Linked DNA regions of Homo sapiens: regions 2, 3 and 4 are each linked to region 1. Evidence: fine-mapped expression QTL. A gene starts in region 1. Each other region holds a variant in brackets. All regions are shown on one strand. Distances are between the middles of the regions. Region 1 holds the start of PNPLA7 (patatin like domain 7, lysophospholipase). Region 2 overlaps EXD3 (exonuclease 3'-5' domain containing 3). Region 3 overlaps DPH7 (diphthamide biosynthesis 7). Region 4 overlaps EHMT1 (euchromatic histone lysine methyltransferase 1).

Region 1 (2,500 bases):
CGACCTTGCTCCGCTTCCGACCGCTGCGTCGCAGCAAGAGCGGCTCCGATTGGCCGCGGCCGCCGCGTCCAATAGCGGCCCCAATCTGGTAGGGGGTGTGGCCGCGGGGACTCGGCCAATGCGAGGAGCGCGCGGGGCGGGGCGGGGCTCGCGGGGCTGGCGGTGCGGGGCCGGCGGTGCGGGGCTCGCGGGGCGGGGCTCGCGGGGCGGGGCTCGCGGGGCGGGGCTCGCGGGGCGGGGCTCGCGGGGCGGGGCTCGCGGGGCGGGGCTGGCGGATGAGTGATCGCTCTCAGCGCGGTGGTCCCTGGCGTCTCCACTGCCCGCCACTGCCTGTGTTCGTCCGCCAGGTGGCCGGCGGTTTCCCGGGAGCCCAGTCCCCCTGAGGCCGTGAGGTGGCGTCGGGAGGTCGGGGAGGACGCGGGCCCTGGACTCGAGACGGCCGCCGCGTTGACGCCGCGACCCTGCCTTTCTTACCCCTCCGCCGGGCGCGGCTCCTCTGGGCGGAGCCGGCAACCGCGCGGGGAAAGCCCGGGACCTGCAGCCGGGAGGGCCCGGGCTGTCTGTGCTCCCCCGCAGGCCGGGCAGTGGTGTGGGGGGACTCGAGCCCTCGCGGTGCCCAAATTAATCAATAATCTTGGACCCAGCACGTCCGGCTTGCGCACTGAGCCCTCCTGCCCGGTCACCCTCGCAGGCGACCTCTCACCCCACGCGGAAGTCGCCCCCCAGCCGCACCCTCACAATCCGGATCCACCCCCTCCCCAGCTGCACCCCGTCCCCAGCGGCACCCCCACAGCCCAGATCCATCCCCTCTCCAGCTGCACGCCCTTCCCCAGCGGTACCCCCACACCCCAGATCCATCCCCTCCCCAGCTGCACCCCCTCCCCAGCGGCACCCCCACGCCCCAGATCCACCCCCTCCCCAGCTGCACCCCCTCCCCAGCGGCACCCCCACGCCCCAGATCCACCCCCTCCCCAGCTGCACCCCCTCCCCAGCGGCACCCCCACACCCCAGATCCACCCCCTCCCCAGCTGCACCCCCTCCCTAGCGGTACCCCCACTCGCCGGATCCACGCGCTCCCCAGCTGCACCCTCTCCCCAGCAGTACCCCCACACCCCAGATCCACCCCCTCCCCAGCTGCACCCACTCCCCAGCGGTACCCCTACACGCCGGATCCACCCCCTCCCCAGCTGCACCCACTCCCCAGCGGCACCCCCACACCCCAGATCCACCCCCTCCCCAGCTGCACCCACTCCCCAGCGGTACCCCTACACGCCGGATCCACCCCCTCCCCAGCTGCACCCTCCTCCCCAGCTGCATCCCCACACCCCGGATCCACGCCCCGCCAGCGTCACCTCCCCTCCAGCCGTGCTTCTCCAGAAGGCAGCGCTGCCCCCATCCCCGCCGCGCTGGGCCTGGCTCCTCTTGACCTGCTTGGATACGCCCCATCTGGCTGCTGTTCTGGGTTCCGGGACAGCCACGTGAGGGCTGTTTACAGAGGGAAGGAGGTGGCTCCTAGCAGATGACAGACACTTCTCAAAAGACAGCTTTTCTTCCTGGAGAACAGACTTTTTCAGCAGGATTTTCCTTTCAGTGAAACATAATTTGACTTGAAAGGAACCCAGGGAAAAGTGTCCAGGTGTGAGCATGAGCGGGTAGAGGTGTGCCCTTGTTTGCTTCAGGCTGTCTGCTTTTCGCCCCTGACTGTTTTTTCTGTTTCTGGCCATGGAGGAAGAGAAAGATGACAGCCCACAGGTATGTAACTCGGGGGACCAGATGCCTGGATTTCCCAGTTGGGGGGCATTTCTGGACCCAGAGAAGGGTCCTCTTGGCGTCTGCTCTGCCGCGCTCTTTGGCCCCGTGGCTTCTTGGCGCCTGAGGACTGTGGGAGTGGTGGATCTGGCCCCTCTCTGCTGCCTGTCACAGCTGCCAGCACTTGTTAGACGCGCCTGTCACAGCAGACAGCCAGTGGTGGCCCATGGGCATTGTTCACAGCGAGGGCAGCCAGCGGTGGCCCATGGGCATTGCCTGAGGCCTTGTCTTTTCTTCCCCTAAGGTCACAGTTGCTACTTCCAGTTCCTTTAGGACTTTGCCTGATGGTTTTGCTTAGAACCTTTTTCTGTGTTTTTTTTTTTCCCAAGACGGAGTCTCGCTCTGTCGCCCAGGCTGGTGTGCAATGGTGTGATCTTGGCTCACAGCAACCTCCGCCTCCTGGGTTCAGGCAATTCTGCCTCAGCCTCCCGGGTAGCTGGGACTACAGGCACCACGCCCGGCTAATTTTTGTATTCTTAGTAGAAACGGGGTTTCGCCATGTTGGCCAGGCTGGTCTTGAACTTTTTTTTTTTTTTTTTTTGAGACGGAGTCTTGCTCTGTCGCCCAAGCTGGATTGCAGTGGCACGATCTCAACTCACTGCAAGCTCTGCCTCCCAGGTTCACGCCATTCTCCTGCCTCGGCCTCCCAAGTAGCTGGGACTACAGGCGCCCACCACCACGCCCGGCTAAT
Region 2 (2,737 bases), 160 kb after region 1:
AGCAGACTGAAGGAGAAGGGTGACCCTCGTAAGTGTAGATAAGGGTTTTGCATCAAAAACACTCCCAGGGGCCAGGCGCGGTGGCTCACGCCTGTAGTCCCAGCACTTTGGGAGGCTGAGGCGGGTGGATCACCTGAGGTCAGGAGTTCGATACCAGCCTGACCAACATGGGGAAACCCCATCTCCACTAAAAATACAAAAATTAGCCAGGCGTGATGGCGCATGCCTGTCATCCCAGCTACTCGGGAGGCTGAGGCAGGAGAATCGCTTGAACCCGGAAGGCGGAGGTTGCAGTGAGCTGAGATGGCCCCACTGCACTCCAGCCTGGGCATTGCAGAGAGACTCTGTCTCCAAAAAAAAAAAAAAGAAAGAAAGAAAGAAAAGAAAAAAAAACACTCTGAGGGAGACTGAGGTCTGCCTGGGATGAGAGCTGTCAGCGGCCGCCTGGAGTCTTACGGAGCTGCGTACTGGGTCAGCCGTGAGGGCGTCACTCCGAGGTCCCTGGTCCTGCAGGCGCCCTTGCCCTCTGGAGGAGAGCACCTCTCTCCCATGTGGCTCCCTCAGGGCAGGACACACAGCCTGAGGGGGACATGGCAAGGGGGGTCACGCTGTCCTCAAGAACAGGCCCCTCTGCACTCCCGCGAGGGTCTGTCTACTGTGCCCCCCCCCAGGGCCCCTCCCACCCCCTGCCCTCCCTGCTGAAAGCTGGGACGGTTTGGCAGGGAACTGGAATGCAGGGTCCAAACTTGGCAGCCGTCACCCCAGCTGGGAGAGGAGTGTGGAGCTGCCCGCTATGCTCAGCGACTGGGGGTCCCACTTGGGCCCCCCCAGGCACCAGCTCCCTCCACCACCTCCAGGGGCTGTGGGCGTGGGCTCTGCATGGCTGCCTGTTGCAGTGGGCTCTGCATTCACCTGATTGTCTGTTTCTGCAGATCCTCGTTCCTAGCTGCCTGCCAGCGTCCTCGGCCCGGCCCTGAGGATGGACCCAGGAGATCCCGCTGGTGACCCTGCCGCTGGCGAGCGCCACCGCATGGGTGAGTCTGAGCCTGATGGTGCCGAGTCTCCCTGGGGCTGTGGGGGGAGGTGCGTGGG[T/G]GTGCATGGGGGGTGGTGGCGCCCACTGTGTACTCAGTGACGAGGGCCAGGCTGCTGGCCCCTAGCTGCGGGCCTCTCTACAGTGTCCACGGCTTGGGACCTTGTGAGTCCGGAGGCCCCACTGTGGCCTTGTTGTCCTCGGGGGTCAGGACAGGCCGCCTCCTTGGGCCCCAGCGTGGGTGGCCTGGCGCCGGGCCTGTGACAGGATCCGGGGGAGGTGGCGGGGACAGTGCAGCTGCTCAGGGCTGGCCGCAGAGGTGGGAGCTCTGGTCCCCTCTGTCCCTCGGGGAGCCAGGCGGAGGGCCCGGAACACCCTTGGGGGCTTAGCGCCGCCACTGGGGGCTCAGGGAACCCACAGCCTCTTGGGTCTCGGGCGGTTCCAGGGTGGCCTCCAGGGTCCCTAGTTTTTTAAACTGAGGCATTTTTCATCCCTTCGAGTTAAGAAGAACATCTGCCCTCCCAGCAGCTTTTTCAGGTTAAAAAAGAGAAATGAGAGGCACCTTCCCTGTGGGCAAAGCCGGGGAGGCCGCATCCCCGCTCGCTCGGCTGCCCTGCCAGATTCAGTGCTGAGGATAAACAGCCCGAGGGGAGGTGCAGCCTCTCTCCCTCCTGTTCCTACAGATCGAGACCCTGCAAGCTGAAGACTGGGCCAGGGTTAGGGAAGCGGAGGCTGGAAGGCCGGGATTAGGGAAGCGGAGGCTGGGAGGCCGGGGTTAGGGAAGCGGAGGCTGGGAGGCCGGGGTTAGGGAAGCGGAGGCTGGGAGGCCGGGGTTAGGGAAGCGGAGGCTGGGAGGCCGGGCTTAGGGAAGCGGAGGCTGGGAGGCCGGGGTTAGGGAAGCGGAGGCTGGGAGGCCGGGGTTAGGGAAGCGGAGGCTGGGAGGCCGGGGTTAGGGAAGCGGAGGCTGGGAGGCCGGGGTTAGGGAAGCGGAGGCTGGGAGGCCGGGGTTAGGGAAGCGGAGGCTGGGAGGCCGGGGTTAGGGAAGCGGAGGCTGGGAGGCCGGGGTTAGGGAAGCGGAGGCTGGGAGGCCGGGGTTAGGGAAGCGGAGGCTGGGAGGCTGGGGTTAGGGAAGCAGAGGCTGGGAGGCCAGGGTTAGGGAAATGGAGGCTGGGAGGCTGGGGTTAGGGAAGCGGCGGCTGGGAAGGAGTGGAGCTGCCTAGTGCCAGAGGGGTCAGCCCGAGCCTCAGCTGCTCTCTGTGCCGGGGACGGGCTGGGGCGGGAAGCCTCCTGGCAGGGGCTCGGCCCCAGTGGGAGCTGTCCGGGGCCATGGCTTTGTGGGCAGAGGGTGAGAAGGGGGTGCCGGGGCCCCTTCACATCCTTCACCCTGCAGTCCTTGTAAACAGCAGTGAGAGCTGTAAGGCCCTGGCCCAGCCGCCTCGCCCTGGGCTGCAGGCCCTCAGTTTGTTGTGGGTTTACTGCCTTTTCACTCACCGCCCCCTGGCCTTTGCCCAGTTCCACCCTACACATGCCCTGCCTGGCAGCCCCTCCATGGGGCAGGGCCATGGCCCTCCCCTCTGTGAAAGCCCTGCTCCCACATGGCAGCAGCTGAGGCTCTCTGCCTCAGTTTCCCTATCCCACGCAGTTGCCTCCTCGGGCCTTGGACCCCTCCAGGGGCTTCCTCTCTGCCTTCCTCTTCTGTGTCCCAGT
Region 3 (2,737 bases), 21 kb before region 1:
TTTCACCGTGTTAGCCAGGATGGTCTCGATCTCCTGACCTCGTGATCCTCCCGCCTCGGCCTCCCAAAGTGCTGGGATTACAGGTGTGAGCCACTGCACCCGGCCCACTTAGCTATTCTTTTTTTTTTTTTTTTTTTTTTTGAGATGGAGTCTTGCTCTGTTGCCTAGGCTGGAGTGCAGTGGCGCGATCTCGGCTCACTGCAAGCTCCGCCTCCCAGGTTCACGCCATTCTCCTGCCTCAGCCTCCCGAGTAACTGGGACTACAGGTGCCCGCCACCACGCCCGGCTAATTTTTTGTATTTTTAGTAGAGACGGGGTTTCACTGTGTTAGCCAGGGTGGTCTTGATCTCCTGACCTCGTGATCCACTCGCCTCGGCCTCCCAAAGTGCTGGGATTACAGGCGTGAGCCACCTTGCCCCGCCCACTTATTCTTTAGAGAGCAAAGTATAGCTTGCCTCAGGCAGTGCAGGGTCTTGGGTGGTGTTGGCCAGGGTGTTGGAGGAGCAGGCACCTGTGGGCAGAGCCATCCTGCCTCCCTGATATGCTCGGTGTCAGATCCTTTATGCTTTTACTGGAAGTCCAGTTTCTGTGCTTTTTGCCTGATACCTGTGGATACAATAGTGACTTCGCCATGTTGGATTTCAAGTTTGTCTGCACCCTTTTTGGATATAGTTTATCTTCCAGAAATAAAGGAAGCATGAGAGAAATAAGATTCCTTTCCAGGTCTTGTGAATGGTTTGCATTTGGGGCATGCTGATGTGGGAGTGAGAAATTAACAACTGGTGTTTCCAGGAAGGAGGTAGCTTTGGCTAGCATCTCTTTCCCAGGTAGAGATAACTCATGGCAGGTGAGAGGGGCGGGTCTCTGAGAAAAGACAGAAGAGGAGCTGCTGAATTTGCAAACAGCCGAAGAAAAGATCTGACCCTTCCCTGCTGCTACCCATCCGGGCCACTGTCTCATCTAGTTTGTTACAGCAGAGCAGCAAGTGATGGCCCTGCCTTCATTCCTGACTGTTCCAGTCTCCACACAGTAGCCAAGCAAGTGTTTTAAAAACACACACACTTTATCGCATCTCACTCATTGTTAGAACCCCTCACAGTTCCTGTTTCATTGAGGATAAAATCCAAAATAGTGATGCGATTACCCAAGGCCTGTGGAATCTGGTCCACGCCTGCTTCTCCGGCCTTGTTTTGGCTCCTATGCTCTCAGTCACCTTTTCCTGAAATAGTCCACATTCCCTCAGTCTCAGGGTTTCGTCACGGGATGTTTCCTTCATGGGTGAATTCTGCTTTTTTGACATGCCCAGCTTAAAATCTTGTCCTTAGAAGACTGACGCAGAGCAGCTGTCCTTCCACCCCAGGCAGGCCTCACCTCCGCCGTGGCTCACGCTGCCTCTGCTTGTCCGAGTGACGAGCACGTGTGTAAGGCGG[C/T]GTTCTTATTTGTGTTGCTCATTGTCACAGCCTTGAACCGTCTGAGAGCCATAAAGATCTCATTTCTTGAGGTCTCTCCTTGGGTTGGTTCTTCTACCTTGAGCTAATTCAGAGCAAAGGTACCGTAGGGCAATGATTGAATAATTCTGGACTGATTCATTCTTTCAACAAATGCTATGTGCTGAGCCCTATTCTAGGTGATTAGAATACTTTAGCAAACTAAACAGACAAAAGTCCTGCTTTCTTTTTTAAGTTTTATTATTTTTATTTATTTATTTATTTTGAGATGGAGTTTCGCTCTTATTGCCCAGGCTGGAGGGCAGTGGTACAATCTTGGCTCATTGCAACCTCCACCTCCTGGGTTCAAGTGATTCTCCTGCCTCAGCCTCCTGAGTAATTGGGATTATAGGCACCTGCCGCCATGCCCGGCTAATTTTTGTATTTTTAGTAGAGATGCGGTTTTACCATGTTGCCCAGGCTGGTCTCGAATGCCTAGGCTCAAGCGATCTACCTGCCTCAGCCTCCCAGTGTTGGGATTATAGGCGTCAGCCACTGCACTCAGCCTTCTTAAAAAAATTATTTATATAGGCCAGGCGCGGTGGCTCACACCTGTAATCCCAGCACTTTAGGAGGCCAAGATGGGCGGATCATGAGGTCAGCAGATCAAGACCATCCTGGCCAACATGGTGAAACCCCATCTCTATTAAAATACAAAAAATTAGCCGGGCATGGTGGCAGGCGCCTGTAGTCCCAACTACTCGGGAGGCTGAGACAGTGGAATTGCTTGAACCCGGGAGGCAGAGGTTGCAGTGAGCCGAGATCGCACCACTGCACTCCAGCCTGGCGAGAGAGCAAGGCTCTGTCTCAAAAAAAAAAAATTTATTTATATAAATACATTTTGAGGATGGGGTGGGTGGTTCACGTCTTGCTGTGTCACCCAAGCTGGAGTGCAATGGCGTGACCACAGGTCACGGCAGCCTTAACCTCCCAGGGTCAAGCGATCCTCCTGCCTCAGCCTTCTGAGTAGCTGGGACTACAGGTGTGAGTTACCACACCTGGCTGATTTTCACATAAAAGTCCCTGCTTTCACCCAGCTTACATTCTGTGGCGGGGAGACAGACAGTAAACACAAGGCATAATATGTAATAGGGAAGGAGACTGCATGGCCTGTCAGGGGCAATGAGTGCTTTGGAAAGAAGGTAGAAGGAGGTGAGAGGGGACCAAGGGTGCTGGGAGCAGGTGCAGATTATACTGTTGGAGAGCATGGTCAGGGTGGGCAGTGGTCCTAAGGCAGGAGTGGCCCTGCT
Region 4 (2,737 bases), 250 kb before region 1:
GGAGGAGGGTACAACGTCAGAGAGAAGAGGTCAGAGGATGCTTCAGATGCAGGGACCAGGCGGGGCTCCGACCTCTGGGCGCTCAGGGCAAAGGCGAGAGTATGGGCCTTTGAGCATATCACAGACGCTGCTGCTTCCAGCCCATGGGGACGCTGCCACAGCCAAGAGGGCACAGAAGCTGGGCGTCAACAACTGGGTGGGCAACCACTGGGCTAAAAAGACTCGGACCAAGCCTCCTGAAGGAAGGAGTGAGAGCGAGCGTGAGGATGGCACTTATCCCAGAGCTGTGGGTCCATGCAGGAGGGACCCCCAGTGCATGGTGAGCAGCCTCAATCCATGCAGGAGGGACTCCCAGTGCATGCTGAGCTGAGCAGCCTCAAAGCCTGCCCTTCTTTGATCTCCCCAGTCATTCACTCGTGAGGCAGGTGGCCCCTGTGTGTGAGGCGCCGCGGTTCAGCACACATGCATGGCAAACCCTGCCCCGTGGCGCTGGCTGTGGGGCAGAGACGGACAATGAGCAGGAAGGAAGACGGGTGCCAAGGAGGGAGGCTAGTGACACCTCCCTCAAATGGTAATACCTAGACACAGCTGATGGAGAGCAAGGGAGGAGCCTCCAGCCAGACACAGTGCAGAGCCTGCCCTGCTGTGAGCATTCACAGCAGGCCAGGGAAGAAGGGGACAGGGAGGGGACAAGGCACTCCAGGGCCCAAGGGCTTGAGCTAACCCTGTGTGTGGAAGGCGATGCCGTGGAGGGTCCGAGCTGGCCCTGAGTGTGGAAGAGGACGCTGGAGGGCCCGAGCTGGCTCTGTGTGTGGGATGGGACGCTGTGGAGGGTCCGAGCTGGCCCTAAGTGTGGAAGAGGACGCTGGAGGGCCCGAGCTGGCTCTGTGCGTGGGAGGGGACGCCATGGAGAATGGGGGTGGGACCAGGAGCTGCAGAACAGTGAGTTTCCGTAGCCAGTCCACACAGTGTACTGCTAAGGGGAGGGGGTGGCTGTACCTGACAGTTGACGTCCATCTGTCCATTTGAAAGCAGGTACTGGACCACTTCGTAGTGGCCTTTCTTGGCAGCCAGGTGCAAACACGTAGAGCCCTCTGCGTCCTGCAACAGAAATGCCACTTAGTCAAAGAATCCATACCTGTGATCCTGGTGTGCCAGCCCTGAGTGCGGGATCCAGGAGAACCCGGTGTCTACCATGCGGGTGGGGTACTGTCCTGCTCAAATGACAAGGAAACCCAGGCTGAGGCCGAGGGAACAGCCGAGGTCCAAGCGCTGTGTGCAGCCCCCTGTGGCCCCATGAGTGGTCAGTCGCCTGGCACAGTGAAGACACCGTCAATGATTCAGCAATAGTTGTC[C/T]GTGTACCACAGAACTTAAAATAATAGATGGCAAAAAGTGGGAACACAAAGAGCGCCAGGCCCACCCCACGGCTCCGGAAACGCCAGGGACTCTGCCCTCCTCTTGCTTCCTTTGCTGCTGGGCACATCTTGTTTTTTTTTTCTTTCTCTCCTTTTTGAGATGGGGTCTTGCTGTATCGCCCAGGCTGGAGTGCAGTGGTGCGATCACAGCTCACCACAGCCTCTGATTCCCATGCTCAAGTGATCCTCCTGCCTCAGCCTCCCACGTAGCTGGGACTACAGGTGTGCACCACCATGACTGGCTAATGTACTTTTTTCTTTCCTAGAGACAGGGTCTTGCTACACTGCCTAGGCTGTTTTTGAACTCCTGACCCCAAGCAATCCTCCCACTTTGGTCTGGGAGTCGTAGGCATCGTAACTGGGATTACAGTGCTGGGATTACAGGCATGAGCCACCATGCCCAGATTGGGAACACCCTCTCATTTCCTTTCAGCTCTGTTTCCCTGAGGAGACCAAATAGATCACACCTATCAAACCATCTCAAAGGAAAACAAAGACATGCAAGGTTGGAGGTCAGACCCAGGAAGCTCCAGAAGAGGCAGGGGAGCCGGTGCCGCCCACACCGCTGTGCCATCCACACGCCTTACACAGGGTTCTTCCTGCCTGTGCTCCTCACACAGGCCCGCAGACGCACTCCACCACCGTCTCCCTTCAGGTGTTTGCTTTGCTTTGCTCCCCTGTTCCTGTCTCCACTTAACCATGTTCCTTCATTACCTTTCTCCCCTTATCTCGGTGGAGTCCGTGTAGCAGTCATAGAGTTTCGCAGGCATCACTGCACATACTGCTCCCCTACCTGGGGCTAAATCAGCATGCTCACCTTCCTCAAGGAAAGCCAGCACACCCGGTTCCCACACGGCTAGTGTTCAGAATTGTAATTTTATTATGAATACAAAATGATGCATGGTTGTTAAAGGTCTGCCTTAATTTTCAAGTGTCTTTAATCGCTGGAATAGTGCAGCTGACAATCTCCTAACTGCTGGCAGACTGTCACAGAATTCAGGACAGAAGCAGGTGCACCTGGCAGAGACCTTGGGCAAGCACTTCTGAATCAAGCAGGTGAGAGACAGACGCCAGCAAAGGAAGCTTAGTGAAGGAAGCCAGCTGTCACAAGAGCAAGACACCAGGCAGGAGGAGGGCAGGGCTGGGAGCGGCAGAGTGGTGGGGTGAGGGGATTGAGAGTCAGCCAAAGGAACCCCGTGGGAATAGACGTGAAGGTGGCAAAGAGCGGGGCTGCAGGTAAGGAAAGGCTTCTGTCGGGTTCAGTGACAGCAGCTAGCTGTGAGGTCTGCAGGCACACAAACAGAAGCTCAAGACACTGGAGC

The links.
Region 2: its variant is fine-mapped to the expression of PNPLA7 in whole blood (INTERVAL, PIP 0.95).
Region 3: its variant is fine-mapped to the expression of PNPLA7 in whole blood (TOPMed, PIP 0.91).
Region 4: its variant is fine-mapped to the expression of PNPLA7 in blood mononuclear cells (TOPMed, PIP 0.94).

Annotation. Positions count from the first base shown.
Region 1 is chr9:137,549,420-137,551,919 of GRCh38, reverse strand. PNPLA7 (patatin like domain 7, lysophospholipase) reads left to right here and starts at 1,518. Exons shown (of 35, transcript NM_001098537.3): 1 at 1,518-1,752. The coding sequence starts at 1,723. MRPL41 (mitochondrial ribosomal protein L41) reads right to left here and starts at 41. Exons shown (of 2, transcript NM_032477.3): 1 at 1-41. RefSeq lists a silencer at 1-719 and an enhancer at 1,908-2,409.
Region 2 is chr9:137,393,600-137,396,336 of GRCh38, reverse strand. It overlaps EXD3 (exonuclease 3'-5' domain containing 3), which reads left to right. Exons shown (of 22, transcript NM_017820.5): 2 at 933-1,034. The coding sequence starts at 980. Among named protein-coding and RNA genes, the nearest start is that of EXD3, 28 kb to the left of the region's middle. The variant T/G (reference allele first, on the strand shown) is at 1,093.
Region 3 is chr9:137,570,765-137,573,501 of GRCh38, reverse strand. The region is part of intron 5 of DPH7 (diphthamide biosynthesis 7); the gene reads left to right. Among named protein-coding and RNA genes, the nearest start is that of DPH7, 6.8 kb to the left of the region's middle. The variant C/T (reference allele first, on the strand shown) is at 1,431.
Region 4 is chr9:137,797,177-137,799,913 of GRCh38, reverse strand. It overlaps EHMT1 (euchromatic histone lysine methyltransferase 1), which reads right to left. Exons shown (of 27, transcript NM_024757.5): 17 at 1,000-1,101. Among named protein-coding and RNA genes, the nearest start is that of MIR602, 40 kb to the left of the region's middle. The variant C/T (reference allele first, on the strand shown) is at 1,356.